Regions from separate parts of the Homo sapiens genome. Here all the other regions are linked to region 2. The links come from fine-mapping of genetic effects on gene expression. A gene starts in region 2. Each other region holds a variant in brackets. All regions are shown on one strand. Distances are between the middles of the regions. Region 1 overlaps TM2D1 (TM2 domain containing 1). Region 2 holds the start of TM2D1 (TM2 domain containing 1). Region 3 holds the start of LOC107984964 (a long non-coding RNA gene).

Evidence for each region.
Region 1: its variant is fine-mapped to the expression of TM2D1 in whole blood (TOPMed, PIP 0.98).
Region 3: its variant is fine-mapped to the expression of TM2D1 in whole blood (TOPMed, PIP 0.95).

The regions. Positions count from the first base shown.
Region 1 is chr1:61,674,243-61,685,069 of GRCh38, forward strand. It overlaps TM2D1 (TM2 domain containing 1), which reads right to left. Exons shown (of 7, transcript NM_032027.3): 6 at 9,175-9,304; 7 at 6,804-7,108. The coding sequence ends at 9,194. Among named protein-coding and RNA genes, the nearest start is that of TM2D1, 45 kb to the right of the region's middle. The variant CAT/C (reference allele first, on the strand shown) is at 5,256.
Region 2 is chr1:61,720,634-61,731,460 of GRCh38, forward strand. TM2D1 (TM2 domain containing 1) reads right to left here and starts at 4,508. Exons shown (of 7, transcript NM_032027.3): 1 at 4,324-4,508; 2 at 3,080-3,153. The coding sequence starts at 4,487. RefSeq lists enhancers at 3,810-4,497, 3,954-5,153, 4,190-4,849, 4,498-5,183.
Region 3 is chr1:61,636,700-61,647,526 of GRCh38, forward strand. LOC107984964 (a long non-coding RNA gene) reads left to right here and starts at 409. Exons shown (of 3, transcript XR_001738095.3): 1 at 409-449; 2 at 542-609. RefSeq lists enhancers at 5,005-5,054, 5,265-5,314. The variant A/G (reference allele first, on the strand shown) is at 4,650.

The DNA.
Region 1 (10,827 bases), 46 kb before region 2:
GGAAATTAAAAGAACAAGAACAGAATGGATAAATATTGGGTAAATATAGCAGACTAACTTCCCTTCATAAGTTTCTTACATCATATTTGGTAGGTGAAGCAAAATTTTTTTGTTTACTTGAGGCTGAGTCTTACTCACTCTGTCTCCCAGGCTGGAGTGCAGTGTAGCATGATCTCGACTCCCTGCAGCCTCCGCCTCCTGGATTCAAGTGATTCTCTTGCCTCAGCCCCTGGAGTAGCTGAGATTACAGGTATGAGCCACCGCACCCAGACAAAAATTTTTTTAAATAGCCTACAGGTGCTACTAAGTGAGGCAAAATTTGTAACACTATCTGATGTGGTGGTGCTCAATATATGTAGAGGAAATACTTGAGACAATTGTATTTTAGAAGTGGGAAGCACAAAGGGACCTAAATGGAAGTAAGCTTTCAACACTTAAAGAGGCAAAGTGTTGACACCAGTAGACGGTGATAAGTTATGTATTTATATTGCAATGTCTAGAGAGATCACTAAAAAAAATTATGTGGGGCAATATGCTCGAAAGCATCATAGAGGAAAATTAATTTTTTCAAAGTTCAAGTAATGCCCAGAAGGCAAAAAGGAAAAACAGAAGAATGAAAAACAGAGGGAGGAAACAGTAAAGAAGTAATAACATGGCAAACTTAAGCCTCAATATATCAATAATTAATTTAAATGCAAGTGGCCTAAATACACTAATTAAAAGACAGAGATTAGCAGAATAGGGGAAAAATGATCCAACAATATAACCGCCTATAAGAAACTCACTTTGAACATAACAACTATATTAGTTTCCTATTGCTGTTATAACAAATTACCATAAACTTAGTGGCTTAAAACAACACATATTTATTATCTGACAGCTCTGGCAACAGTAGACTGGATAAATATTTTTGACACCTTCATACAGTGGAATACTATACTGTAATAATGAGTGAAAGAAGCCAAACACATGAAGTTCAAAAACAGGCAAAACTAATCTATGGTGATAGACTCACAGAAGAGTGATATCCATGAGGGGTGGATGCTGACTAGGAAGGAACACTATAGAATTTTCTGGAGTGCTAGACATGTTCTTTATCTTGAACTGGATGGTGGTTAAATGGGTGCATACATAGGCAGAAACTTATCAAGCTTTATACTAAGATTTGGGCATTTTATACATGCCTCAATATAATATTTTTTTTATTTGTTTTGAGATGGAGTTTTGCTCTTGTTGCCCAGGCTGGAATGCAATGGTGCAATCTCGACTCACTGCAACCTCCGCCTCCTGGGTTCAAGTGATTATCCTGCCTCAGCCTCCCAAGTATCTGGGATTACAGGCATGCACCACCACGGCTGGCTACATTTTTAGCAGGGACGGGGTTTCACCATGTTAGTCAGGCTGGTCTAAAATTCCTGACGTCAGGTGATCCACCCGCCTCAGCCTCCCAAAGTGCTGGGATTACAGGCATAAGCCACTGCACCCAGAATATTCTTTTTGAAATGAAGCCATTAGGCTTTTGTAAGATTGTCTTTCCTTTTTGATGAAAAACTCCAGTGGGGAAATTATTAAAACATGAGACAGATATATGGCCAGTTGAGGGCATAAAAGGGAAGTGATATTGTATAGTGATTAGGAGGACGGGCTTAGGAGTCACAAACCTGGTTTTAAGCATCATTTGCTGGCTGTGTAATCTTAGTCAAGATATTTGATCTCTCTAACCTTCTTTAATTATGTATATAATATGGATATATAAATGGCTGTACTGACCTTGTAGGAGCATTGGAAGTACATGAGATAAAAAATACAAAAATCTTAAAAACAATCAGTTATTAAATACCTACCATGTGCCACACACCGTGGAATATATTACTTAACCCTATGACAAATGCATGAGAAAGATACTAACATGTCCATTTTAAGAATGAAGAAACCAAGGGCCTAAGAGTTTGGTCATAAGAAGTGACAGGTGTGTCTGATCCTAAAGTCCATGAATTTAAGCATTACCCTTTATGGCATACTTGGATGAATAGGTGGGTGGATATTAAAAAATTGAATCAGAAACTAGCCTGGGTTCCGCAGAGGGGCACAATATTTAACTAAAGCTTCCGTTAACGTATTAAAGGCTAGCCAATGATATCTATAGCATAAAAGACCTTTATCACTGGAAGGGAAACTAATCGTCCTGTCTCACGGGGTGATTATAGGGATTAAGTGAGATAATCAGGTCAGGAGAGTACATAGCAAATAATAGGCAATTTAGTAGCTTCCTTTAATTATTTCTAATAATCTACTCCCTGATCTTCTCTCAGGAACCACCTCTAGAAACCACCCATTCAAAGAGAGAATTTTAATGTTTATAAAATATTTGAGCAGAGCCCTGACTGAGGAAGCAAGTCATGTAACAACGTGGGAAAGAGAACTCCAGGCAAAGGAAAGATTAAGTAAAAAATCTTGAGGTAGACTGGGCGTGTGGCTCACACCTGTAATCCCAGCACTTTGGGAGGCCAAGGCAAGTGGATCACTTGAGGTCAGGAGTTCTAGACCAGCTTGGCCAATATGGTGAAACCCCAATCTCTACTAAAAATACAAAAATTAGTCAGGCATGGTGGCATGTGCCTGTAATCCCAGCTACTTGGGAGGCTGAGATAGGAGAATTACTTGAACCCAGGAGGTGGAGGTTGCAGTGAGCCGAGACCATGCCACTGCACTCCAGCCTGGGCAACAGAGCAAGGCTCTGTCTCAAAAAAAAAAAAAAAAAAAAACACTTCAGGTAGAAATTGGTCTGGGTGCAGTGGCTCATGCCTGTAATTCCAGCACTTTGGGAGGCGGAGGCAGGAGGAATGCTTGAGGCCAAGAGTGCAAGACCAACCTGGCCAACATAGTGAAGCACTGTCTCTATGAAAAAAAAAACAAAAAGGAATCAATATGGCATATTTGAAGCATGACAGAAGCCACTGGAGAATAGGCAGAACAGTAGCATTTTCTCATTTATTTTTATCTCTTTGGCTGCTGTGTGGAGAATATAGTGTAGGAGGACAAGAGCAGAAGAGGTGCATAGTAGGTCAATAAATAGTTGAGAATTAATAAACAATAAATTTGCTTCTTTTGAATACCTTTTAAAAGGTTCAAAACACTTTTTTTGTGTGTGTGTGTGAGACGGAGTCTCACTCGGTCGCCCAGGCTGCAGTGCAGTGGCGCCGTCTCGGCTCACTGCAAGCTCCACCTCCTGGGTTCATGCCATTCTCCTGCCTCAGCCTCCCGAGTAGCTGGGACTACAGGCACCCACCACCATGCCCAGCTAATTTTTGGTATTTTTAATAGAGACGGGGTTTCACCGTGTTAGCCAGGATGGTCTCGATCTCCTGACCTCATGATCCGCCCGCCTCAGCCTCCCAAAATGCTGGGATTACAGCCGTGAGCCACCGGGCCCAGCCTTCAAAACACTTATTAAAAACAACTTTTGTTATGTCTTGAACCATTTCATTCCAATAGTTTGCCTCAGTGACAAATCACACAGAGAAGTCATGCCATTCTCCTTAATGTTTCTCATATTGCAATAATAGGTGAATTTCATAATCTATTCAGAATTAGTCGAATCTTGAGGTTTTTCTAAAAATCAAAGATAGGATCTTGAGCCTTCATAATCATACCTTCTTAAACACAAAATTAGCTCACATGATAAAAAGTTCCAAACACCACACTTGCTAGAGTATTCTGGTAAAACGTTTTTCTTTGGCATATGCAGCCCAAATAGCTCTATCCTTAATCATTTTTCAAGTTTTAATCTCCACATGCTTGGCATATTCTGATAACATTGACAGGTTAAAAGCAACACTGTTGTATGCATAGTGATTGCTTGCAATTAACCATAATTTAGGCTGAAAGTAGGCTGATCAGCTGCCTCACAGCAACATTTTAAAACTTATTAACTATCTCCAGCGAACTTTAGATGAAAAAGCAACAAAAACAAAATCTGTAACATTTCGGCTTTTTCTTACATAGAGTCTTAAAAGAGTGAAGGTGCCAATAAGACTAATTCTTCATAAAAAAAAAGACACTTTTGGCCCATATTACATCCAGTAACTACAGATACGGATAAAGATAATAAGAAAAACAGGTAAACAATGTCCAAACGAAGTGTCTTACCCTCCTTTTGTAAAAGAGACTTTTGAGCCCACTGGCATTTTATTTAAGAAATAACCATGCTATAGCCCAGTTGTGCAGAACCTCTTGCAAGTTCCAGACAGACCTCACCAGTACTTGATGCCATTATCCCATTATTTTAAAATGTGTTCAATACATAATTAGTATCTGCCACTTAATCTTTCAACATTACCTGACACGTGTCACTACCTCTATTTATATGAAGACAGAGGGATTAAGAATGGTTACGTGCTCAGTCACAAATTAAGGGATGAGAAACAGAATGCACTCAGGACTCAGAATAAGTCTATACTTTTATCATCCCATGCTGCTTGGATGCCAGACCTCTAATATGGCATCCTACCTTTTCCTTTTAAATGTATCTATCAGGTGGGGTGCGGTGGCTCATGCCTGTAATCCCAATACTTTGGGAGGCCACGGCAGGAGGATTGCTTCAGGCCAGGATTTCAAGACCAGCCTGGCCAACATGGTGAAATCCCGTCTCTACTAAAGATACAAAAACTAGTGGGGCGTGGTGGCACGTGCCTATAATCCCAGCTACTCAGGAGGCTGAGGCAGGAGAATCGTTTGAACCCGGAAAGTGGAGGTTGCAGTGAGCCAAGATTGTGCCATTGCACTCCAGCCTGGGCAACAAGAGTGAAATTCCATCTAAAAAAAAAATAAAATAACCCCCAACCAATATTTCTTTTATACTCTTGGCAGTTCCATGAACAAATGCTGGCCACAGACATAACAGAATCTTTGAAGTAAGGAATATTTCTGGGTAAATAGGTACTTCTGGAAATTATACCAATCCTTTAGGCAAAAGTAGTATCATTTGTACATCACTGCTACAAGGCACTAAACATCTCTATAGGATTGAAAGAATCCTTTCCATTCTGCCTTAAAAGGATTTAGCAGTAATAAGGAATGACTGAGCTAATGCATCTCACAATTTTGGTCACTCATATAAAAGCAGGTTTGACATATAAAACATCTGATAGAGAGGGTTTAACATATAATTCATATTCATACACACTACTAACAAATTGTCATAATAGTGCTCAGTGAAAGAAAAAAAGCTGACAAATAGAATTTAAATGCATTCA[CAT/C]GAGTTTATTAAAAAATCTGTTAAAGAATTACGTATTAGGCAACAGAATTAGGCAAACTAGAAGTGTTCTTGTCATGCAAATTCAGGAAACTAAAGTGAAAATAAAGTCTAAAGGCTTAATAATGTGTTGTGAAGGGACTTTGTTTCTATGCTTCATCAACAACCCTTTAAGAGTATAGCTTATTTGAACAAATACTTTTTAGCATCACCTGCTTTGAAACAGACTTACTACCTGGCCAAGTTAATGACTATAGCTATTATGCAAGGATCAAGATTACTTTCCAAAATTTGACTGCAGGTTCTTTTTTTTTTTTTTTTGAGACAGAGTCTCGCTCTGTCACCCAGGCTCGAGTGCAGTGGCACAATCTCGGCTCACTGCAACCTCCGCCTCCAGGGTTCAAGTGATTCTTCTGCTTCAGCCTCCCAAGTAGGTATTTCTTATATAGTTGAACTAACCTGACTGTGGAAACATGACTTACAATCTGGGCTTAGATGATACCGAAGTAAACTACAAAGCACTGTCTGCAACCTAAAGGAACCTCAGGGACACTAGAAAATGAGTATCTACCAACTAGTTTAACTGTGACCAAAAATATCACGGTGAAAAAGTAAGTTCCAAGAGAATATAAGCTTCTAAAGGGCAGGGATTTTGTTCACTCCTGCATCCCCCCATATAGATCAGGCCTCCCACTCAGTAGACAATCAAACTTGTTCAAACGTCTCTTTGAACAAATCAAAGAGATGTTCCTGGTGTACACTGGGGGTCAACCCAAATTCATTTCATATATTAATATTTAATAATCTCCCACCAACTTGAGAAGCTATTGAATGATTTACATGTTATGAAGCTAATTATACTATACTGTCCACTTTTGAGGAAAATGTGTGACAAAAAATTATGGTTTTTACTCTTGAGGAGTACCGACACTAGTAATTTTGAAATTGGTATGCCTGTTACTGAAGAAAAAGTGGGATAGTATTCTGGGGACATAACATTTCATGTATTTCCATCTTCTTAAAACCCCTCTAAACATGGTAAGAAAAATCAGTGCTAACATACAGGTGCTGCTTTTTTCAGACACTGGTACATCACTTAAGGCACCTGTGCCGGCATCTGCCTGGTGGTGCTCACAGATGGAAGACATTAATCATCTGTTTGGTGCTCCCACCTTGTCCATCCAGCTTCAAATATAACTGCGGTGAGCTAGATGAGTCAGCATCTGGTCTTCCAAAAGCTAGTGTAGCACTCCCAAAGCAAAAAAGGAAGAAGTTCACACCTCAGAGGCCTGAATCAATGCCAGAAGTGTACATGTTGCCTCAAAGTTTCACAGACTCCCTAATGATCTTTAGCTCCCTGGATACCAAGGCAAAGACAGATCTGAAAGCTGCAGAAAAACAGGTGGGTTGTCATACACAAGACTGAAGCCCCAGGCAATATAAATGGTATTTGTTCACACCATGGATTAACTGCTTTGAAGGATCAAAATGGGTAAGACAGCTACATTCAACATTTAAGAAGATTTTCTCAATAACAAAGCACTAAAAATGTGAATAAGTTATACTTTTATTTTTCAGAAACAAAAATGACAAGTGGCAACTTGCCTTTGTAAAAGATTAAAGAGTATCAGAGTAATAAGCTATCTCTCATAGAGACAGAAGCCCGAGAAACACTATTATACAGCTTTCAAAGGAAGTCCTATTAAATAAATCTCACAATAATATACTTTAACTCAACAAAACAAAAACCACAAAAAATTATACAGAACTCATAAAATGGTATATGAATGAAAAAGAGAAATCTTTAAATCCATACACTAGAAGTTCTCTATTAAAATCAAGGAGGCTCAAATCCTAAAACAGAAAGAAGAAATACGTTAAAACACAATATTTTTTAAGAGTCCAATGAGGTTATTGCAGATGTACATTTTAACATTTCATTTGCTCAATGTATTTTTTTCTCATTCTTGGAGCACTTCTGTATAATGTAGAGAGATTACATGAATGATAATGCAGATACTGGCCTTCTCAATGGGCCTTTCAGGTTTTAAGTTTCAAATCTGAATCTGGAATCCCACCTAAATGTTTACATAATAGGCTACCAAGAATGAGATTCCTCTTAAAATTACATTTGCTTAATTTTTACACACTATGGTTTAGAAACAATCTACTTTTGAAAGAGACACAATTTACAGTATGAATAATAAAAGTTACATGAAACTACACAATCCTTCTCATAAAATAGGAGAAACAATTTCCAAAACAAAAATGCCTAATACAAAATGATACAGTTGACTGGAGCTGGGGTAGGATGGGAGGAAGAGAACAACCATGTGACAGAATGTATGGAAGACCTAGATTCTAGTTTCAGTTTTGCACTAATTAGTTGCGTATCTTACTCTCAACTTCCTTAGGTCTTGATTTTTTTCCTGGTAAGAAGAGGTAGATGGATCTCTAAGCTTTATTCTAATTTTAAGGCTCAATGACTTACAGTTTATAAGATTTGGAAAACCTTTTGGACAATCAGTTGAATAAATTCCTTACATCTTGAGGGTGTGTCACTGTTCAATCCCATGACAATAACTACAAGGCATATCCATAATTTTACTGTTAGAAAAGAAAAAAATCCACCTAAAGGGCAAAAGTATACTTCATATCCTGTTTCTGTTCTACAAGACAGAAAACAAATGTCTATTCTCTTGCTGGCCTCTAGAAGCAGTCCTTTGAGATAGAGTTGACTGAAAACCCTAGAACAAGGATAATGGTTAAGACATCTACCCTGTCTTTCTCTCTACCTGTCTGTGTCTATGAAAGCTTCTAGACAGCTGCTAGACAGCTCAAAGTGAACTATTACATAAAAACTACCCTTCACCCTACATGATATATAGGATTTCTCTATTACAGAGAATCATTATACCAGGAAATGGTTTTCCTGATATTCTACCAAAATCCTGAGTAAAAGTTTGCATTATTGGAAGATTATTAGAATAGACTAATGTATGGTAATTGAAATTTAAAAAACCTTGTAGTAGCAGAGTCCTAGAAAACCAGAGAGTTGAACCAGGAAAAAGGATGGTATCTCTGACTTCAGCAGGTTTATCACTTATTTAAAGCTGAGGCCAGCCAGGCACAGTGGCTCACGCCTGTAATTCCAGCACTCTGGGAGGCCGAAGCAGGTGGATCACCTGAAGAGTTCAAGACTAGCCTGACTAAAATGGCGAAACCCCATCTCTACTAAAAATACAAGTTACCCGGGCATGGTGGTGTGTGCCTGTAGTCCCAGCTACTGGGGAGGCTGAGGCACGAGAATCGCTTGAACCTGGGAGGCAGACGTTGCAGTGAGCCAAGATTGAGCCACTGCACTCCAGCCTGGGCAACAGAGCAAGACTCTGTCTCAAAAAAAAAAAAAAAAAAGAAAAAGAAAAAGATAAAGCTGAGGCCAATAATTCTTACAGCCAGAGCCAAACTTTAGGTTAGAAGAAGCACTTACAGGGAATTCAGGCTTTGGACTCTTTCAGTATCTATTTTCAGTTTCAGGGAAGGAGAAGCAAAGAAGGAAGTTAAAGATTATACTGACCCTTAGAGGGATGGGCAGCAGAAATATCTGCTATATTGAGCTATTTACGGCACATACTTTCATCATAACCATCAAATAATAAATGCCTTTTTGCTTTGATGTTACTTTTTTCTTGTGAACTTTGTCCTTTAACCATATGCACTGCAAAGAGTCTGAAGTGGGAACCGAAGGAGCCATGAGCGTGGACTAAAATGCTTTTCAAAGGATTGGAGATGTTTCAGGCATAGGGGTACCTGAGAGGTTTATACGGTTTCTTAAAATTTTCTATGGTCCTAAAATTCTCATAATTTTATATGAATAATATACCACTATAAGATATTACATATATATATATATCACTTACTGTTTCTTTTAAAAAATATTTATGGATATAATTGCGTTTTTCTAAATGTTTCATTAGTAATACTCAGTCTTGTAAGTCTGGTTCCATAGTAATCTATAATGTAACTACTTCCATCTGAAGGTCCAACAATCTAGAAGAGACAAAATTTCAAAATTATTCATTTTACAAAAGATATTTCACAGCACTTTGTTTACTTTTCTCAGTTGTTAATAAAAGTATTTCAGAAGCAACAAAAATCCAGCTCTAACCTAAGCAAAAATAGGTAATTTAGTGGCTCATGTAGCTAAAAACAACTACTGGGATATACTGGGATAGCTCAAAGGATCAAAAGAAAAGCTACAGGAACCAAGGACTGAATTCTGTGCTCCCTGAGGCCCTTGGCTTCCCTGCCTCCTTGCTTAGCTCTGCTTGTCTTCATTCTGCAGAGTGGCACTCTAACTAATTGCCAACAGCTCTAGAGTCACATATTCCCAGCTCAGCAGCTCCTAATACAAAGAAAGTAAACTTTTCTTCCCCAATGTTTATATACCAATTCCAGGGAAAGACTTTTATCGATCTGCTTGGTTTTTATGCGTACTGTGGACAAACTACTATATCCATGGGAATAGATTTAATATGATTGGCCAGGCCAGGCTGCCTGTAGGAGATGAGGTTGTATCATTGACAGTCCTGCCAGAACCACCTGGAATGGAAAAGGAAGAGGTAGAAAAAAACAACACATGTTCGCTACAATCATCTTGTCCACTTAATCACATATGTGACAATCTAGTTAACATAATCTCTATAAATTACCCTCTAAGGTAGCAATCTTCAAACTGTAGCATTAAAGGTGGACAAAGATTTACCAAGGTGTATGTGGGCCCAGAGGAGAAATCAATCCTGAGAGCTTAATTCCCTAAATACTCTTTGTAAAACAAATTTGCCTGATACCATGCTACACTGGAAGCATCCTACCAGTTTCCCTTCCCACTTCTCCTCACTGTGGTCATTTCTCCCACTTGTTAACAGTAAAGCATACCTACCATCCAGGATACCCCGAGTCTTATGATGGCATATTTCCCTGAGGTGTGAAAGCCTCTGAAGTGCCAAACAAAGGGATAGCTCAAAATATTGGATTTAGGGAACTATCCTTTACTCAAAGGTCCAAAAATACATTCTACCGTATCTGTTCCAAAGATGCATTTCCAATAACATTTTACATCTTTTTGTTTAAAAATAATTTGCAACATGTTTATGCTGTTTTGATCAACTGTGTATCATTATTATAACAAGTTGATCCAAACAAAAAATCACAGAAAATTTTTAAATATTTTAATTTTAATGAATAAGATGATTCGCTAGAAGTTTTCTCTCTTTCATTTGTTTGTTTGTTTGTTTTTTGATATAGGGTCTCACTCTGTCATCCAGGCTGGAGTGCAATGGCATGATCTTGGCTCACTGCAACCTCCCCCCCGGGGCTCTAGCGATCCTCCCACCTCAGCCTCCCAAGTAGCTGGGACCACAGGTGGGCGCCATCACGCCCAGCTAATTTTGTTTTTGTATTTTTTTGTAGAGACAGGATTTCACTATGTTGAACAGGCTGGTCTCAAACTCCTAGTACTAGGATGATGGTTAAGAACATCAATTGATCTGCCTGCTTCGGCCTCCCAAAGA
Region 2 (10,827 bases):
TAAATAAATATAAATAAATGAACAAATTCTCAATCAATAACAATATTTTGTAATATAAATTGTCTTAATAAAGTAAATTTAGTTTTAAATTATTCATTACCAATAAATACTTTCTCAATAAACAAATGCACTTATTGAATGATACTGAGCTAACCAAGAACCATTTTAAGATCACATCAATTTATTGTCATAGATGAATTTCCTTTGCCTTTTGTCCCAATTCCTACTCACTAGCCCCAAACTCCCCTCTGTAAAACACTGCTCACGTTCATCCCTACCCAAACATTAGTTTATGAAAATTGAACAGCCAGGTGTGGTGGCTCATGTCTGTAATCCCAGCACTTTGGAAAGCCAAGCAGGTGGATCGCTTGAGCCCAGGAGTTCCAGACCAGCCTAGGCAACATGGTACATCCCATCGCTACTCACCCCTCCAAAAAAATACAAAAAATTAGCCAGGTGTAGTGGCATGTACCTGTAGTCCCAGCTACTCAAGAGGCTGAGGTGGGAGGATCTCCTGAGCCTGGGAGGTGGAGGTTGCAGTGAGCTAAGACGGTGCCACTGCAGTCTAGCCTGGGTGACAGAGTGAGATCCTGTCTTAAAAAAAAGAAAAAGAAAGAAGAAAATTAGGCTGGGCTCAGTGGCTCACACCTATAATCCCAGCACTTTGGGAGGACGAGGCAGGTGGATCACCTGAGGTCAGGACTTCAAGACCAACCTGGCCAATACGGCGAAACCCTGCCTCTACTAAAAATACAAAGATTAGCTGGGCATGGTGGTGCACGCCTATAATCCCAGCTACTTGGGAGGCTGAGGCAGGAGAATCACTTGAATCCGGGAGGCAGAGGTTGCAATGAGCTGAGATTGCGCCACTGCACTCCAGCCTGAGCGACAGAGTGAGACTCTGTCTCAAAAAAAAAAAAAAAGAAAAAAGAAAAAGAAAAGTAAACATAGTTTGAGAATTTCACAATAGTTCTTCATATACTCAGTGAAAAAAACAAAGGAAAAATAATTTTGGCTGGAAGAATGAGAGAGATCACTTAACTCACACTTTTCACAACTCTTAATATTTTTCTCCTATGTTAGAACCAAAAAGCATGTTTCATGAGCTATTTTGATATCTGTCTCTGATCAGGAGTTAGAATTGATTCACCATAGTTAGTCCATGAGCTTTTGTGTGTTTTAAAAAAGGCAATTAGCCAGGCACAGTGGCTCATGCCTGTCATCCCACCACTTTAGGAGACCAAAGCAAGAGAACTGCTTGAGCCTATGAGTTCAAGACGAGGCTGGACAATATAGGGAGACCCTCATCTCTACAGCTAAAAAAAAAAAAAAAAAAAAAAAAAAAGTCAGGGAGCCAGTCCTGGTGGTTCATGCCTGTAAACCCAGCACTTTTTTTGGGAGGCCCAGGCAGGCAGATTGCTTGAACCCAAGAGTTTGAGACCAGCCTGGGCAACATGACGAAACCTTGTCTCTACCAAAAATACAAAAATAAAATAAAATAAATTAGCTGGGCGTGGTGACGCACACCTGTAGTCCCAGCTACTCCAGAGGCCGAGGTGGGAGGATCACTTGATCCTGGGAGGTGGAGGTTGCAGTGAACTGAGATGGCACCACTGCACTCCAGCCTGGGTGACATAATGAGACACCCAGAAAGAAAAGTAATAATATATGCCTTATAGAGGAGATATTGCTTAGTATGTATACATTTATTTTATTTAGATATATTACGCTTAAAGAAACTTTTTCCGCCCCAGAGACAGAGTCTTGCTCTGTCACCCAGGCCAGAGTGCAATGGCGCGATCTCGGCTCACTGTAACCTCTGCCTCCCAGGTTCAAGCAATTATCCTGCCTCAGCCTCCCGAGTAGCTGGGATTACAGGTGCCCATCACTGCACCTGGCTAATTTTTCTACTTTTAGTAGAGACGGGGTTTCACCATGTTGGCCAGGCTGGTGTTGAACTCCTGACCTCGTGATCCACCCGCCTTGGCCTCCCAAAGTGCTCGGATTACAGGTGTGAGCCACCATGCCTGGCCATTTAAAGGAACTTTGTAAGTAATCCTTTCCTTTGTAGTTAACTTATAAATATCCTTTGATTTGCCTGTTTTACACTTTGAAGTTGTTTATATCATAGTTTTCAGAATACAGAATAGAGTTACACATAAAGAAGAGTTAGTTCTCAAATAGTTGTTTCAATCATTCATATGAAAGATGCTAGAAATCTGTGAATACTAGTGTAACTCAAGCATCTCACTTCATACTGGGAAGCTGGCAGCCAGCTGTCTCAAAAATAAAAATAAAAAAAGTATTTTTCTCGCCTAGAGGGTTGTTTTGTATATATGGAGATTTCAAAGGAAATGACACAACTAAAAAGAATTTCTATCCCAAAAGAAGTCTGCCCTCCTGCCCTCCAGTTAGGTGTCCTCTGGAATAAAATGTTGAATCCACTTAAGAATTATTGATAAATAAATTCATAAACATGTAAAAAATCATTTTGGTGCCAACTGAATGTTAAATACACACACATAAACACATACCCCAAATCAAATAAATATAATCAAATATAAACCAAAGTAATATAATCAAAGTAATAGAAATGACATTTATCAAAGTGACATAAACGATAGTGATGAAGTTGCTGGGAAGCAGAAAGGACTTGTAGGTATTATGGCACTAGCCAAGAACTATCAGGTAAGTATTCATAGATGATATAAGTGGAGAGCTAAAGGAAAATAAAAGGAAGACTTTCCATGTGAGGGAATGATATGCTTATTAATTTGGGGAAAATAAAGTATATAAAATATAAGTACACTTGCCTAACTGAATCTGGGAACATCCACGTCCAGCCCTATTATTGTTTATATGGTGAAATTTCACCATTTCAGAACAAGTAAGATTCTTTTTTAAATTAAATACTGACAACCTCTAGGTAGTTCTCCAGTTTTAAGTTACTCTGGAAACTGAATAATAATGTTATCATTTAGAAAAAATGCATTTATTAATTGCCTTTAGTGATCATACATTGACCTATGAAATAATGTTTTTAAAATTATTTTTAAAGACATGTTTCTTGAAGTCTTACCATGAGCTGTGTAGTTTGTACAGTTAACTGGTTCTTGCGTAGCGTCATTTATTTTTGGATCTTTACAAATATATGTAAAAAAAAAAGTTAAGGAAATACGGACTACATTCCAACACAACACATTATCATGCCTTTACTATTCATATTATATACTCATGTTGATATTCACATGTAAATAGAGGCTGCTAGTTTGTCCAAGTCAATAAGCATATGTACAAATATACTTTTAGTATTGCTAAGTAATACTTGAGGCAGGAGGATCACTGGAGCCCAGGAGTTTGGGAAGAACAGCCTGGGCAACATAACGAGAAGTCTGTCTCTACAAATAATATAATAATACATAAACATTACAATAAACCTTTAAATTTGCCCCATAATTATCCACGTTTTTACTCATGAGAAAACAGAGTTCAAATAGGTCACCCAAGGTTGCAAAGTGCAACAGAAATTTATCCACTGAGTCCCCACGCGGTGGTTCATGGTGAGGGGGATGCGGATCGCTTGAGACCAGGAGTTCAAGACCAGCCTGGCCAACATGGCGTAAACCCCGTCTCTACTAAAAATACAAAAATTACCCGGGTGTGGTGGCGCATGCCTGTAGTCCCAGCTACTCAGGAGGCTGAGGCAGGAGAATTGACTGAACCCGGGAGGCGGAGGCTGCAGTGAGCTGAGATCGTGCCACTGTACTCCAGCCAGGGCGACAGAGTAAGACCCTGTCTCAAAAAAAGAAAACAGAAAGAAATTTGTCTGGCAGTCTACCATCTCATGAAGTTTGAAGATGACATGAGGTAATATGCATAATATACATAAAGTTAATGATAAATGGGCAACACATTGGCTAGATCGTTATTACTTGTCTTCCCCCTAGGAAGAGTTGGCAAACATTTCCAGGGTAAGAGACTATCCATCTTTGTATTACTAGTGTCTAGAACGGGGCCTGGCATACTTCAGGATCTACATGTTTTACTGAACAAGTAAGCACACTGATAAAAAAGAAAAAAAAAGTGGATCAGAAGAGGAAGCGCCAATGACTAGTAAAATCATAAGGAAATCACAAAGGGTGGCCTCTGGCCCTCCCATCTCCACAACTCTGTTCACCTTCAGGGATCCTTCAGTCATTAGAAGCCACAGATCAGATTATCGTTTTCACTCAGTACAGCCCTAGCCAGTCCTGACGGCAGCGACCCACCTGCGACCCCAACTCTACCTCGCCTCCATGGGGGGGTGTTCTCCACAGAGGATATTGTCCCACTTTGAGGTCCTCGCACTTAAGCGACTCCTCGCCCCCGGCGGAGGTGGCAACAGCCCCCCAGGGTCCTGTAGTGACTGAGACGAACCACAGGACACCAACGAGTCTGGCCGTCACGGCCTCCGGAGCAGACGGACCAGACGGCCAGGCGGCCGCCATCTTGGAGACCGACACTTTCTCGCCACTTCCGCTTCCGCCTCCGCCCAGGAGCGGGAGGGAGAAGGGCAACAGGGCGAGGTTCTTAAAGGGACCTCGCATAGGATAGAGGCCAGTTCCGTCTCTTCGCGTGTTCTTCTGCCCGTGAGCCCGTGGAATCACATTGGGAGACCCTTTTAAAATATGCATGTACCCAGTCCCTCGAGGCGAATTTTCCCCCACGAACCCTTGGAAGGAGCTAAGGTTAATCTTTGAGTGCTGGAGGAAGGAAACGAGTGGTTTAGGCAATCAGGTGCTTCACCCGCTTCTCATTCCCGCGCCCTTAGCTGAGGCTTCTCGGTCCTCTGAAAGTGCCAGCGGCGTCAGAGGTTGGAATCAATGCTTTCCTGACATCATCGCAGTTAGCCCTGATAGGTTTTGGGTTTACAGATAAGGAACAAGGCTCAAAGACGCTGAAACACACTGACCTTAATCACTAAGTGACTCAGTCGGAATGAAATTGATGTTTGCCAGATTTCAGATCTATGCTCTTACTAATTGACATAATGTCCTCCTGTAACTTTAGAGAAGGATTTTGGAAGGCTGCCACGAACAGAACTTAAAAACTGTGAGAGACATTACGCCTTTTAAAAAAAAAAAGTGACAATTTAGGTGGGGGATAATTTGGGGGGTGGAAACTGTAACAAGAGGAAACCAAATAGTTTATGATTAAGTGAAAAGTTGAAGATTTTTTTTCCTCCATCTGTTGTTTTTAAATTTCTATATGTTCTAAAAGTTCTGTGGTGGGGAACTTTAACAGTGAGGAAAAAATGTTTTCGTAAAGTTAAGTTTAATCTTTTTTTTGTCTAACAATATAAAAATTTGAACTTGAGTGGTGCTTCTTCATCCATACTTTAGCACTAACTTTGGTGGTTCTCAAACTTTGAATAGCATCTGAATCACCTGTAGTAGTTATTAAAACAGAATGATAGAACCGGCACTCAGAGTTTCTGATACAAAAGATGTAGGGAGGGACTGGATAATTTCCATTTCTAGGAGATCCCAAGGGATGTGGGTGTTGCTAGTCCAGGGACCCCCACTTTGAGAACACTGGTATAATGTTTTACGAGAAGTAAATTTTTTTTTTTAAGATGGAATCTCTCTCTGCCACCCAGGCTGGAGTACAGTGGCAGAATCTCAGCTCACTGCAACCTCTGCCTTCTGGTTCAAGTGATTCGCCTGCCTCAACCTCCTGAGTAGCTGGGACTGCACGCGTGCGCCACCACGCTCAGCTAATTTTTGTATTTTTAGTAAAGACAGGGTTTCACCATTTTGGCCAGGCTGGTCTCGAACTCCTGGCCTAAGTGATCTGCCCGCCTCTGCCTCCTAAAGTGCTGGGATTTCAGGTGTGAGGCCACACTGTGCCTGGCCTCATTTTGGAATATATATTCTGGAAGACATACAACTATTTGAAGTAATATTTAAACATAAACTACGTTTTTAAATTTTCTTTTTTTGAGGTGGAGTTTCACTGTTGTTGCCCAGGCTGGACTGCAATGGCATGATCTCGGCTCACTGCAACCTCCGCCTCCCAGGTTCAAGCTATTCTCCTGTCTCAGCATCCGGAAAGGCTGGGATTACGGCGCCCACTACCAGCCCAGCTAATTTTTGTATTTTTAGTAGAGACGAGGTTTCACCATGTTGAGCAGGCTGGTCTCGAACTCATGACTTAAGGTGATCCACCCGCCTCTGCCTCCCAAAGTGCTGGGATTACAGGCGCGAGCCACGGCGCCTGGCCCTAAAATTTTCATAATAAAACAACTTTGTAGCATTACTATGCTTTATTCATTCATTCATTTAGAGACAGAAATGGAGTTGAGACGGGAGTTTTGCTCTTGTTGCCCAGGCTGGAGTGCAATGGCACGATTCTCGCTTACTGCAAACTCCACTTCCCAGGTTCAAGCTATTCTCCTACCTCAGCCTCCTGAGTAGCTGGAATTACAGCCATGAGTCACCACGCCTGGCTAATTTTGTATTTTTAGTAGAGACGGGGTTTCTCCATGTTGATCAGGCTAGTCTCCAACTTCCGACCTCAGGTGATCCACCCGTCTGAGCCTCCCAAAGGTCTGGGATTACAGGCATGAACCACCACGCCCCGCTGCTATTTTTTGAGATGGAGTCTCGCTCTGTCATCCAGGCTGGAGTGCAGTGGCACGATCTTGGCTCACTGCAACCTCTGCCTCCCGGGGTCAAGCAATTCTCCTGCCTCAGCCTCCTGAGTAGCTGGGATTACAGGCGCACGCCACCACGCGCAGCTAATTTTTGTATTTTTTAGTAGAGACAGGATTTCACCATGTTGGTCAGGCTAGTCTCGAACTCCTGACCTCGTGATCCGCCCGCCTTGGCTTCCCAAAGTGCTGGAATACAGGCGTGAGCCACCGCGCCCCGCCGCTATTTTTAATTTAAGACATTTATACATAATATTTATGCTTTAAATCAGGTTTAAATGATTTAAGTGAAAAATTTAGTAGTTCAGTTATAAACTTCCTATTCTAAATGGACTTCTTCCTTCTCTCTTTTTTCTTCCTTCGTTTTTCCTTTCTTTCCTTTTTTTCCGTCCTCCCTCTCCCTCCAAAAAGGAAAAAAAAATTGTTTTTAATTGAGCATTTACTATGTACTCAGCATGAAGCTAGACCCTAGACTCAAAAATTTAGACAAAAACCCTGCAGGTAAGCACTTCCTGTTTGGTAAGGGAAAATACAAACAGTTAAATACTATTTGATAAGTGTTTGATAATTGTTACATTAGAAGCACATACTAGCTACTGTAGTAGGACAATGGGTTTGCTTAAGATATTCCTCCTGTGCCTGGCGTGGTGGCTCAAGCCTGTAATCCTAGCACTTTGGAAGGCCAAGGAAGGCAGATGGCTTGAACAAAAAAAAGAAAAGAAAAAGAAACATTTAAAAAAGATTCTCCCAAAATAGTAGTTGAAACGCTATATTTTTGTAGGATACATGACTGCTTAAAAAGGTATAGCCTAGGGCTGGGCGCAGTGGCTCACACTTGTATTCCCAGCACTTTGGGAAACCAAGGTGGGCGGATCGTGATGTCAGGAGATCAAGACCATCCTGGCTAACACGGTGAAACCCTGACTCTGCTAAAAATACAAACAATTAGCCCGGCGTGGTGGGACGCGCCTATAGTCCCAGCTACTCCAGAGGCTGAGGTAGGAGAATCACTTGAACCCGGGAGGCGGAGGTTGCAGTGTATAGCCTAGAAAACGAACCTTTAAACTTTTACTTAGGCCAGGCGTGGTCACTCAGCCTGTAATCCCAGCACTTTGGGAGGCCGAGGCAGGCAGATAACCTGAGGTCAGGAGATCAAGACCATCCTGGCTAACGTGGTGAAACTCTGTCTCTACTAAAACAAAAATTAGCCCTGCGTGGAGAGGGCGCCTGTAGTCCCAGCTACTCTGGAGGCTGAGGCAGGAGAATCGCTTGAACCCGGGAGGCAGAGGTTGCTGTGAACCCAGGTCTGCCATTGCACTCCAGCCTGGGTAACGAGCTAAATTCCGTCTCAAAAAAACAGATAAAAAAACAAAAAAACCTTGAATTTAAAAAACAAAAACCGGCCGGGTGCAGTGGCTCATGTCTGTAATCCTAGCACTTTGGGAGGCCGAGGTGAGTGGATCACAACGTCAGGAGTTCGAGACCAGCCTGGCCAATATGGTGAAACCCCGTCTGGAGTAAAAAAAAAAAAAAGTGCAAAAATTAGCTGGGCATGGTGGTGGGCGCCTGTAGTCCCAGCTACTCGGGACGCTGAGGCAGGAGAATCGCTTGAACCCAGGAGGCAGAGGTTGCAGTGAGCCGAGATCATGCCACTGCACTCCAGCCTGGGCGACGGAGCGAGACTCCGTCTCAAAAACAAGCAAACAACAACAAAGACAAAAAAAAAAAAACACAAAAACCAAACAGAAAAGCTAATCAAATGTACAATATACAGCTCAACACCATCCCTCAGCCCTATTCTGAGATGAAATTTATGACATGGTTACGAGGCAAGGATTAGGTAAAATCTGGCCAGGCACGGTATCTCACGCCTGTAATCCCAGCACTTTGGGAGGCTGAGGCAGGCGGATCACCTGAGGCCAGGAGATAGAGACCAGCCTGAGCAACATGGAGAAACCCCGTCTCTACTAAAAATTCAAAAATTAGCCAGGCATGATGGAGCGTGCCTGTAGCCCCGGCTACTCAGGAGGCTGCGGCAGGAGAATTGTTGAACCCGGTAGGTGGAGGTTGCGGTGAGCCAAGATCACACCATTGCACTCCAGCCTGGGCAACAAGAGCAAAACTCTTCTCAAAAAAAAAAAAAAAAATCTGTCAAAGGCAAAATTACAACAAATTCAGTTATATATCTAATTAACTTTTAGTCACAATTCAAGGAGTGGGGCAGCCTTCATTCTATACACTAGAAAGAAAACTCCCGCTGGGCAATAATAAAACACTGGGTTTTGTAAGGTGGGAACAAAGAAACAGCAACAGAAAAATTCGCGGTTGGAGGCTGGGCATGGTGGCTCCCCAACACTTCGGGAGCCCAATGTGGAAGGATCACTTGAGTCCAGGAGTTTGAGTTCTAAGACCAGCCTGGACAGCATAGACTCCATCTCTACAAAAAGCAAAAAATTGCCTGGGCATGCCTCTAGTCCTAGCTACTAAAGAGGCTGAGCCTGGAGAATCAGGTGAGCCCAGGAGTTCAAGGCTGCAGTGAGCCATGATTGTGCCACTGCACTCCAGGCTGGGCAATAGCACAAGTCCCTGTCTCCAAAAAAAAAGTGGGGAGGAGGAGGGAGAGGAGGAGGAGAAAAAAGAAAAAGAAGGGGTTTGTAGGGTTTTTTGTAAGGGTTAAAGCAGAGGGGACTTCCTTGTTATGGAGACTCAAGTAGACTGGAATCTCCTGCTTTCAGGAAAAATTGGTCTGTTTGGGGATCTATCTGCTTCCTTAAACCTTCAGTTGAGCATGTGGCTTTTAGCATGAGTGAATCCATTTTGGTTTGATCTGGTATTTGGGGGCCTAGTGCAGGAGCTCAGTTTGAAACAATGGCCTCCCATAATTTTTGTTTAAGAAATCCAAGACTAAGGATCAGAATATCTGTTACACATATTACCTGGTAATAAAAGACAGTAACTTTGCATTTTGACTACCATTTTGATGCTTTTAGAATGTTCTGGTTTGGAATCTATAAAGAACTTAAACAAATTTACAAGAAAAAAAACAACTCCATCAAAAAGTGGGCCAAGAGTATGAACAGACATTTCTTAAAAGAAGATATTTATGTGGCCAACAAACATATGAAAAAAAGCTCATCATCACCGGTCATTAGAGAAATGCAAATCAAAACCACAGTGAAATACCATCTCACGCCAGTTAGAATGGCGATCATTAAAAAGTCCGGAAACAAAAGATGCTGGAGAGGATGTGGAGAAATAGGAGTGCTTTTACACTGTTGGTGGGAGTGTAAATTAGTTCAACCATTGTGGAAGACAGAGTGGCGATTCCTCAAAGATCTAGAAACAGAAATACTATTTGACCCAGCAATCCCGTTACTGGGTATATACCCAAAGCATTATAAATCATTCTACTGTAAAGACACATGCACACATATGTTTATTGTGGCACTTTTCACAATAGCAAAGACTTGGAACCAACCCAAATGCCCATCAATGATAGACTAGATGAAGAAAATGTGACACATATACACCATGGAATACTATGCAGCCTTAAAAAAGGATGAGTTCATGTCATTTGCAGGGACATAGGTGAAGCTGGAAACCATCATTCTCAGCAAACTAACACTGGAACAGAAAACCAAACACTGCATGTTCTCACTCACAAGTGGGAGTTGAACAATGAGAACACATGGACACAGGGAGGGGAACATTACACACTGGGGCTGTCAGGGGGTGGGGGGCTAGGGGAGGGAGCGCATTAGGAGAAATACTTAATGTAGATGACAGGTTGATGGGTGCAGCAAACCACCATGGCACGTGTATACCTATGTAACAAACCTGCACGTTCTGCACATATATCCCAGAACTTAAAGTACAATAATTTTTAAAAATGTGATTGGCGCTTGAACCCGGGAGGTGGAGGTTGCAGTGAGCAGAGATTGTGCCACTGCACTCTGGCCTGGGTGACAGAGCGAGCCTCCGTCTCAAAAACAAACAAATGAACAAACAAAAATGTGATTGATAACATAGTGAGTGCTCTTTAAATATTTGTTGACTACATAAAATTTGCTATGTGATACTTACAAAAGGCATATCCAGTAAAAAATGACACAAAGTATAAAAATGAAGAGATGAAT
Region 3 (10,827 bases), 84 kb before region 2:
CAATCAGGCAAGATCCAATACAAAAAAAAGCTGATTTGCCAAAAGGGAGATTAGCATAAGTGCCTACAGTCACATTCTATTTTTTGAAGTTTACGGCTTTCAGGGAGCACTTCTTGTTGGAAGTTCTATTTAAAAATTATGGAAGGATTATGATACTAGTGTCCACCTGATAGAGGAAAACAAGGAAGGCAAGTGGGCCATTTTAGAAATCACAACTGTTAAGCTAATTGCAATTTTGAAAGTAAACCTAATGGTACTGCAGAAAACAAGAAGAACGACTCTAATGTAATCCTGGCAGCATTGTGATTTCAAACTGCTAAACCATGCAATGTATTTACTTTTCCTTTGTGTGGGCTTGCATATTTACCTTCACCAAGGATATTTCTCTGTTTCGTGGTTATACATTGCAGCACTCATGACTGATGAATTATTGTCAAGGACAAACTAAGGTTCTTGCTTTTTACCAAAACGACTTTTTATAAAACACAAAACTTTTCCACAGGGGAAATGCAGATTTAGCATTATGCATTTTCGTTAACAGGTTTAACAGGATGGCCTACTACAAATGGTGAATAAAATGAGAGCAAACTTGGGAAAGCAACTGCAAAGGTAAGATTGAATTAAGGGTAAATATATGCAAATTGTCCCAGCCCTAACGCTGTCTTCTGAGGAAAATGCCAGTGCTACTGATTATTTTTTGGAATTTAAAATGGCAGTCACCCAATTGTTTTGCCCTTTACTGCGATCACTAGAAGGAAATACTTCTAACCCAACCCAAAATGTCACTTCTAAAGAAAAAGTATGTACATATTCCCATAATAACCATAAAGCATGGGAATATTTTGTTTTATTTTACTTCTTTATCTTTTCAAGCTGTTAAGACTATTTCTTTTTTGTTTTTTACATTTTTAAGATACATATGGGGTCTCACTATGTTGCCCAGGCTAGCCTCGAACTCCTGGGCTCAAGCAATCCTCCCATCTTGGCCTCCCAAAGTGCTGGGATAACAAGCATGCACCACCACACCCTACATCCCCAACAAACCTCTTCTAGGGTTCCTTGTAATCCTATCTACAGTATCATCCAGAAATTCTCATTGAGTCCATTTCAACACCTGAAAAGACATGCGATGTACAGGTACTTCTCTGTAATGTGATACACATCCTCTTGGTTAAAGGGTTTTAAAGTATCTCAGGACTTAACTTACAAATCTCATAAATAAATACTGTAGCCTGAGTTTGGCCTCAAAAAATAAGAAAGGATACATAAAAGAAAAAAAGATCTGATGGAAATAGGGAAAAAAATTATTATTTGTTAATCCTGAGTGGTGGGTACAGAGATGTCTGTCATTTTCTGGTTTTCTGTATTGGAATGCTTCATAACTTTAAAAATTGTTTTTCTAAGGCCAAGAAAAGCTAAAGAAGTTACCAGGTGCTCAAATTCTAAATGAAGAAACGAGAAGGACTAGGGAAAATTGCACTGCATTTTTCTTTTTCGGGGTAGTAAATTGAAGAAAACGCTGAACTGCAGTTGCATTGAAGGGACAATGATCTAGGGGGTCCCTGGGAGCAGTATTCCTATTCCATTGAAGGAGGTGAGCCAAGATACTTATAAGCTCTAGAGAACCTTTAACACAGGAAGCTATTTATCATAACAAGCTTGGTTGATACTGTTCCCATACTGAACCAATTAGGTTCGCCTATTTCGTCATACTTCATAACTTGGGATGATAGGTTTCCAAGTATGGTACAGTGTAGTAATTGAATTTTGATCAAACACACATGGCCCATAACCCACTATGTGAAATTTTCAGAACAGTTCACAGCTTTTAAATATCCAGTCAACATGTTGCCAAAAGTACAGGATGTACTTGATGCAAGGGGGAGAGAAAGGGGAGGGCTGAATCTTGGTAGAGTTGTAAAACAAATATTTTTGTTCTTGTTCTCTTCTTATTTTTCAAATAGCAGTGGGGAAAGGCCATGGGATATCATATCAAAACTCAAGTCTTCCCCTTGCTTGTTCCATGTGCGTAAACATCCTTAAGTCTCATTTCAGATCAGCATTTTCTTTTGCATGAAACTATTTTCACGTCACAGGCCTGTTACACACGACCTGCTAGCATTCTCCTTCCAGCACTATCCAAAAAGTATTTCTTGACAACCTACTATATGTTAGATACTGGGTCTCCTGGTAAACTCTTTTGAACAAAGAGACATGATCCCTGCCTTCATTTGATCTACTGTGGATGGAGAGACAGACATAAAATACATAAAAACATCAATAATTTTTTATAATTGCAACCACTAATAAGTAATATGAAGGAAAAATAGGGCATCAGGAGTAACGATAATGGGGATGTGATTTATCCAGAAAGGAGGAAGTAGAAAGGAGAAGCATGGACTGCATTTCCAAGGCAGTGCCATGTATGTTGAATTCTGAAAGATGAGAAGTGATCCAAGAGAGTGAACGCTGAGAGAAAGTATTCCCAAAAGAAGTAGGCAAGTAAGCATATGGATAGGCCTTGAAGTAGGCAAGAGTTTGGCAAGTTCAAGGACCTGAAGTCTAGTATATTCAGTGAGAGAGCCGCTAAAAAGATACTGGGGGCCAGACCACACAAGGCCATGCAAAGGATTATGCAAAGTGCAGTCACTGAAAGCTGGTAAGCCAGGGAATGACATGATGGGAGGCAGGCAAGACTAGAAGCAGAAAGACTAACTAGAAGGCTTTGGCAATTGTCCAGCTGGGAAGTGATAATGGCTTGGAACACAGCAATAGCAAGGATGGAGAACAGTGGGCAGATCTGGGAGATATTGTGGAGAAGAACTGACATGATTTGGTGATAACTGGATGTGGGAAGTGAGGGAGAGGGAGGCTCCAAGGACATTTTCAGGTTTCTAGTTTGAATGACTTAATGAGTAAAGTCTAATGAATAACAACTTGTTAGTATAATCCGCAAGACTACACCAAAGCAGTAGGAGAGCTACACAACTTTCACAAGCTCCCATGTCTGCAGGAGTGCTCTGCTCTCTTTGGATTCTGTAGGAACAGAGGCATCAATCAGGTGCTGGGAATACAGAAATTTTCCACCAACGTGCTCATCAAACTTTCCTTTACCGTAAGCCAAAAGAATGTCTCTGAGCTATGAACATCAGACTTTAATATAAACTTTAAAATCTTACTCTCAGCTCTACGGACATGGTTATAGGTGTCTGGCAATTGAACTAGGAGAGCCTGAAAGTAAACACATTGTCTCTTGGAAATTGATGAAAAAACCAAGCATGTTTCTTTATTCATTCAAAAGATTTTACTGAGCATCTTTAGCCTGAGAAGTAGGAGGTAAATTAGACGTGTTCCCTGCCTGGGCAAAGAGTATATTCTATTAGGGGAGAAAGAGGCATACCAAGATGTGCGTAACACAGTTATGCAGTACGTAGTATGTTACATAGATCTAGCAAGACAGCGACATTTAACAGATGACAGGGAGGGGGTGGAAATTCGGTGCATGGGCACGGCTATGAAAGATTTCAAAGAGGCTGTATTTGAGACAAGCCTTGAAAGACCAACAAGAGTTTACTAAGCAGAGAAGAGGATGGGGGAGAAATTCCCAGAGGAAGAAACAGCACAAGCAAAGGCACGAGGGTCCTGAAGAGCACTGGGTATTTGGGGCTAAAGGGTAAAAAGAGCAGGGTATCTGATTCCAGATTAAAATGTCATCCCTCTATTCTGAAATCTGAAAAATACTAGCAGCTTGATTTGTCCACAGTCACTTGTGCCAGGTAGAGAATCCTAATTCGTGTAGGCCCAAACCAACAAGAACCTCTTGATGTGACTACTGCCTGAGTATTGCAGTGTTCGTGGGAGCTTTAAGTTTACCTATCCAGATGGGAGAACCTCTTTCCCGAAATTCATAAGCAGTCCCACAACTCCGCCAATGCTACAGGACCCAGCTTTCTGAGGCACCTAGAAAGACATGGCAGTGGCCCAAGGTGATGCTTAGGTGGGCTGGCGAATGCACACAATAGAATGTCTGTCTGTGACATTTAATCTCACTCTGGCAAACTGGTGCAGCTGCCCTTGTACAACAAACGGGAAGGCACAGTGAGTGACCACCACCAAAAACAAACAAAACAAGTGTGTGCGTGCGTGTGAGCTTTAAAATTTAATAGCTATTCAGACAGTCCTTAGAGAAGGAATTGGCAGCTTCGGCCTCCAAGACTGCTCCCCCACCTGTCTCCAGGCACTGCAAACACAGCTGTGTAAGAAGGAGACAGTCAACGCTTCCAAGGAAAGAAATAGTGCAGTCTTGGGGGTGGGGTGATGATGAGAGCACCTTTCTCACAAACCCACGTGGGACAGGGCCTTGTCTAGCAACCGCAAAAATAATCGAGCAGGACGTGGTCAATCAAGCTCTTTATAAAACCTCATGTTAAGTAAAATCATTCAAGATCCAACTCAATGGCCACCTTAAACCCATGTTTTAAAAGCATGAGACAGAGCACACAATTCATGCTCAAAGGAGAACGAGGTAGCATGCATGCTGGCAAGACGCGCATTCAGGTTTGCTCCCGGTATCAAGATGAGACGTAAAGACGATTTATGCACTGTCATAGAACTTGTAGTTCCTCACACAAAACACAGAACTTCCTGGG[A/G]AAGTGCCTAGAAACTTCTTTATCTGTATTTCCCCAGGCTGCAAAGTGCACACATTTTTAAAGTTCAACTCTTAAAAAAAAAAAAAAGTCAGCAGAGGCAAGATTTCAACAGACGCCGGTCCAAATGTTAGCAATTCTAGAGTGGTCAGGGGTTTGCCGCTCCCAAAAGTAAGGGGGAAATTAGAAGAAGGAAAGAAGTCGTTTTCGAAGACGAAAACCAAAGCAAGGAGGTATTTTTGGTATCATTTTAATCACAAAATAGCACGAATGCGGTCTGTGCCTGTGCGCTACCCAAACGTCGATTTGAATACCACTGAACGCTAGTTTGAAAATTTCCATTTTTGTAATTTGCTTTCTTTTGTTAAGCCAAGACTTGAGAGAAACCTGGCAGCCGTCTCTAAGTCTGGCACGATTTCACCTCAGACGCACTCGGTTGGTTTGGATGTTGAGGGAGACCGCACATGAGAGAGGGAGAAGGAGGAAAAGAGAGCTGGAGAGCAAACCTACCGCTCGGCGGCCGCCGCAGAGAGCAGGCCCAGGGCTTCTCAGCCGGGGGATCTGGCTCCACCTACAGGAATCAGAAGGCAAACCTAGTAGACGCCTCGGCGTCTGCAGGAACCCGGTGGGGGCTGGGGGAACTTTGATAATTGCCTAGAGAATTTCCTAGCCAGTAGGAATGGGGGTCGGTAGAAGTGGTAAGGATTGGGAAGCAGGGATTTCCATGACCAGATTACCCACAGTCATATCAGATTCAGCGATTCTTATTTGGAGGAGAAAAGGTATCATGTCACCTCCTATGACCTAGGAATTTTAACTGGTTCCAGGTAAACCCCATTTGAAAGCAAAGGCAGCACCTGGTCCCAGGACAGGCCCAGCACATAGCATGCTCAGGCAATAACATTTGAATGAATGAATGAATGAATGAATGAACTGAATAATCCAATCTATCAAATAACAGAAACCTAATATGATAAAAAGAAAACCAACCCCCAACCCCAACACTGTTTTTCAGGTATATGTATGAGTTGTCAGGCATTTTTGATGGCTAGTAATTACTACAAAAATCCTGCACCATGTAGGCTAGTCGTGTTCCACCTCCGATGTGCCAGAGCAGTGATTGAGTACCACCGATTTCATCCCATGCCCTCATTTGCCAACGAATAAACAGAAGCTTGAAGAGGTTAAATGCCTTTTCCCAGGTCAACCAGTTTGTTGGTGACAGAACTGGTTTGGGGCTAAATTTTCCTGACCTGTCTGGTATTTGTTTTCTAAGGGCAGGAGACTCATTTTGCATTGGCCTGCTGGATGCCCTCAGCCGATTAGCTCTCACAGGAGGAAGTTAGCTTCCCCCACCCACCTGTTGGCCTGTCCCTGGGCTTCTGCCCCAGCTTCTGCTCTGGGCCACAGCCTCTGCTCATGCTGCTCTACTCCAAAAATCAAACGCTGCCTGGAGCTAATGCCAATGGTTGCTAAACTTATGAATTCATTTCCTAAAGCCTGAGGGACAGAATCTTTGAGCCTGTGGTTTAGTAAGCTACAAACAGGCAGGTGCTTTGTTTTGGCAACACAGGTGTCTTATATACAATATCTCCTCCATCTATTTACCCAAAGCACTTAATAAGCAGTTACTGAGTTTCCCAATGATAGTTATAGAAGAAGATGTTATTTACCAATTGAAAAGGAATTTTTGCCGTAGGCAGTTAGCACTCAGTTTCCAGATGAAAAGGTGAAGATCCTTCTGGGAAGTGAGATGCTGTGTGCATTATGTGAGATGAATATGATCCAGGGAAAGATAGCAATTAAGCAGATCCAGATTCTTTTTTTTTTTTTTTTTTTTTTTGAGATGGAATTTCACTGTTGTTGCCCAGGCTTGAGTATAATGGCGCAATCTCGGCTCACCACAGCCTCCACCTCCCGGATTCAAGTGATTCTCCTGATTCAGCCTCCAGAGCAGCTGGGATTAGAGGCACCTGCCACCATGCCCGGCTAATTTTGTATTTTTAGTAGAGACGGGGTTTCTCCATGTTGGTCAGGCTGGTCTCAAACTCCCAACCTCAGGTGATCCACTAGCCTCGGCTTCCCAAAGTGCTGGGATTACAGGCGTGAGCCACTGTGCCCAGCCTAGCAGATCCAGATTCTAACCACAACCTGTCTATAAAATGGAACTAACACTGTCATGACCTCTGAATGGATTAAAAATTAATCATTATTATTAATCACAATATTAATAATAATGCTGAACTATTACTAAGTGCTTACTACATTCCAGGCTTTCAAATGACCACTTTACATGCATTGTCTAACTTATCCTCAGAGCAACCCCATGCGAGTTATAATTATTACCCCCATTTTACAGAACAAGAGAACTGAAGCTCAAAAGGGTTAAAATACTCACCTACAGTGACAGTTTACAATGGTAAGGCTAGTGGTTGGATCCCAACTCCTATCTGACTCGGGACTTCAAAACATTATGTAACACAAGAAATGCCTATTAGCTGATTCTATGCCAGTGGCATTCAAATATCAATCTCTAGTTCTGAGCTTTCAAAGGAACTCTGTGCTTCTATTCCCAAATGCTGAAAGAATATCATTAATTATATATTCCACTACTGTCTCAAACTTAAAAGGGCCTAAGCCAAACTCTTTCCTTCCTTTCATAAGCATTTACTGAGAACCATTCATGTTCAAACCTCCATGGTTTGGAATCTAGGGCAGTGGTTCTCAACTGGGGGTGATTTTGCACTCCAGAGGACATTTTATAATGTCTGGAGACATTTTTGGTTGTCACCACTGGGGCTTTGGAGTGCTACTAGCATCTAGTGAGTACAGGCCAGGGATGCTGCTGAATGTTCTACAATGCACACAGTAACTCACCCCCCAAAAGAATTATTTGGCCCAAAATGTCAATAGTTCTGAGGTTGAGAAATTCTGGTTTAGGAATACAAGGATGAATTAGATAGCTAAAACCAATCATCTGATGTAAGAGATATACATATAAATTTTAAGCACGAATTTTACCTAGATATCTGTGTGATGACAAGGGGTCCATCAAGAGCTATGAGGTTTATTATGGGCTGGAGAAGTCTTAGTGGAGGAGGTGGCACTTAAGCCAGGCATCAAAGGAGAGATAAGATCTGGATTCTGGATAAAAAAGAACAAACAGTGTGCAGGGTGTGGGTGTACATGAAGAATGTTGGTTTATTTTAATTGGAGTGGAGGAGGTGTGAAGAGGAGTAGTAGAGAAACGGGGGTAATATTTTGTTGGGGCCAGACCAACAGGCCTGAATGCAAAGACAACTTCGGACTTTAGGTGTAAGTAATAAGAAGCGATCTAACATTTTCACATGGGGTGTAATATGATCACAATGTTCTAGGGAGATGAATCTAGCAGCTGAATAAAAAATGGATTGCGGAGGGTAAGGAGCTGGAGACAAGAAGACATGTTATAACACTATTGCTACAGATTTTGCTATTTTAAAATAAACCACTTGGCTATTTTTGTTATTATTAGTACCAAACAATAACTGAGTGATTACTGTGATTTAGGACCTAAGCTAAACACAATATATATATAATCTTACTTAATGTTTCTCACTTTCATAAGGATTTCCCCATTATATAGATAAGGTAACGGGGTCTTAGACTGGATAAGAAAGTGGCAGTCAGTTTGGAGTCAAGCTCTGACTAACAAAGCCTTTGCTCCTTACTGCTTTGTGTGCTGGGCACATGGTCTGGATTCTTAACCTCTTGATCAAACCAGACTGTTCTCATTTATAAGGTGGGCAATAAAACCAAACAGCTCAGACCCCTACTGGGAATGGGACGGTCTAGGACAAACAGCCTCGGGAAATCTGCTCCTCCTTGGAGGCTGGAGCTAACTGTAGGGATAAAAGGAGTGTTTCTCTGGGCTTTGCCGGGTGTGGGGAGCATAGACATATGTCCTATTACAAATACACCTACATAATAGCTTCCTTAAGTCTATTTTAAGTCTATTCCTCCCAAGGAGATGGAAAGTAAGAGTGAAAACGGGCACAATCTGGGACATCTGAACAAAAAATCAGACTTCTCATGTCAGGCCTCTCCTGCCATGATGAGGTTGCAAGCAGGGGATATGAAGTGGGGAATAGAAGGGCTGTGACTCCGAAATTCCTTGTTGACTTGGCTCCTGATCAGATTGCTAACTAGGTTCAGGTGTGAGCTCCAGTTTTGTTTCAGAGACTTTTGGGCACAGGCGAGGAAGGAGAGGAAAGGCATCAAATGTATCTGTAGGCAGAGTGGGTGGCAGCACTAGAATTGGAGGGTGTGCCAACAAAGGCATTGCCATACGTGCCTGCTGGCACCAAGTGGCAGTGACAGGCCTCTAGTGGGCCTGCAACTAGACTGTGTTTGCTGATCCAGGACTCCAGCTTTTGTTGTGAAAGAAGATTCATTACAAGGAACAAGAGAAGGAAAGGACCAAAACAGTGTCCACCACTGAGCACCCAAGGACCAATAAATGAATTACACGTGAGAACCTCCTTGAATTCTTCCAGAACTGTCAGATAGAAAAAGATGGTGGACATACTCACAGAGCAGACAGGGCAGAGCCAGAGAGACACTGTTTGATGGCCACCTCTGCTGTTCTACCTGACTCCTTCCAATGCAGGATAATCTTGAAACTATTTTGGAAAGTTCGTGATCTACAATTTAAAGATCAAGCACTGCAGAATTTCAAGATTCCAATTATTCTTTCTAAAATCCCACAAATTTAAAGAAACGTAAGTTCTTGCCACACCTCTTAGATTTTGACATTCTAATGAATATACTTTTAAAACAAATCAGGATACAGACTCCCTCTCTAGCCTTGATTTCCTCAAGGTCAATGATTAAATCTGCAGCACTGGGCTCAGGAGGTGCTCAAGAAGTGTCTGCCAGGTTTAACAGAGTGCAACGTTTGCCCAAAGCATCAAGAATATTCACTACATGAATTAATATAATTTTAATCCAACTTTTACTTTCACCTAGTTATAAAAAAATAACCTTATGCATCAATATGCCTATTTTCACACAGCCTTTGCCCACAGTCTGTAAGCTGTCCTAATACTAAGACCAAATGCCAATAAGCAAATGTTTTTTCCTTGAGAAAATATGGAAGAGGGAATTACACTAAAACATACTACTCAGAAGGATCTGTTCCACTGGTTTTGCTGGTAGAAGTGGCATAATTAGACCTCTTCAAACCAAACAGTGTCCTGAGAAAAGAGTGAAAACCAGAAATCCAGGTTCTCATTGATATGGCCTCTTCTCCATTCTGCTGCCTTTCATGAGCTATTCTTTACGGAATTAAAGCTTGAGACTAACAGCACTGCTATCAAGACATGAGGGTCTCTAGACAACTGGAAACATCCCTGGTCACTTCACACACCCCACACCACAAACTCTCTTGCTTGAATCCAACCTGGTAGATAACATATTACCCAACATTGAAGTATCAGGTTGGCTTTGAATCCCTATTGAATGTCTACTATGCATTCAGTGAGGAGTTTCAAGTTATAGAGATTAAGAAGAAAGGCCCTAACGTTTGGCTTATAAGCTAGTTGAAGAAAACACAGTGCATGCAGAACAGTGGAAGACAATATTCCTTCCTCAAACACTACTGAGTGCCTACTTTGAGCTAGGCCCTGTGCTAGACAATAGGGGTGCCAAAAGTAAATTGATTCCATTTTGTTCAATTCAACTCATTATTCATTTGGCATTTATTGATTGAATGCTCTTGTACTAGACCACTGCTTTTCAAACCTTAATGCATATGTAAATCACCTGTGGATTCTGATTCAGTAGGTCTGGGATAGAGCGTGGGAGCCTGCATTGCTAGCAAATTCATAGGGTATGCCAATGCTGCTGGCCTGTGAACCACACTTTGAGTAGTAAAGGACTGTACAATATCCTAGTCCCTGGCTATACAGAGGCAAATAAAATAGCCATGACCCCTGCCCTACTGAAGCTGATATGCTAACAAGGAATGTAAATATCAAACAAGGAAGTAGAGTCAGCGCTATATTTCCACAGGTTCCACATTCATGTATTCAACCAATCACAGATTGAAAACAGCCAGAAAACAACAACAACAACAAAAAAAAACACTGCAACAATAAAGAATAATATAAATAAAAAATATAGTATAACAACTTATTTACAT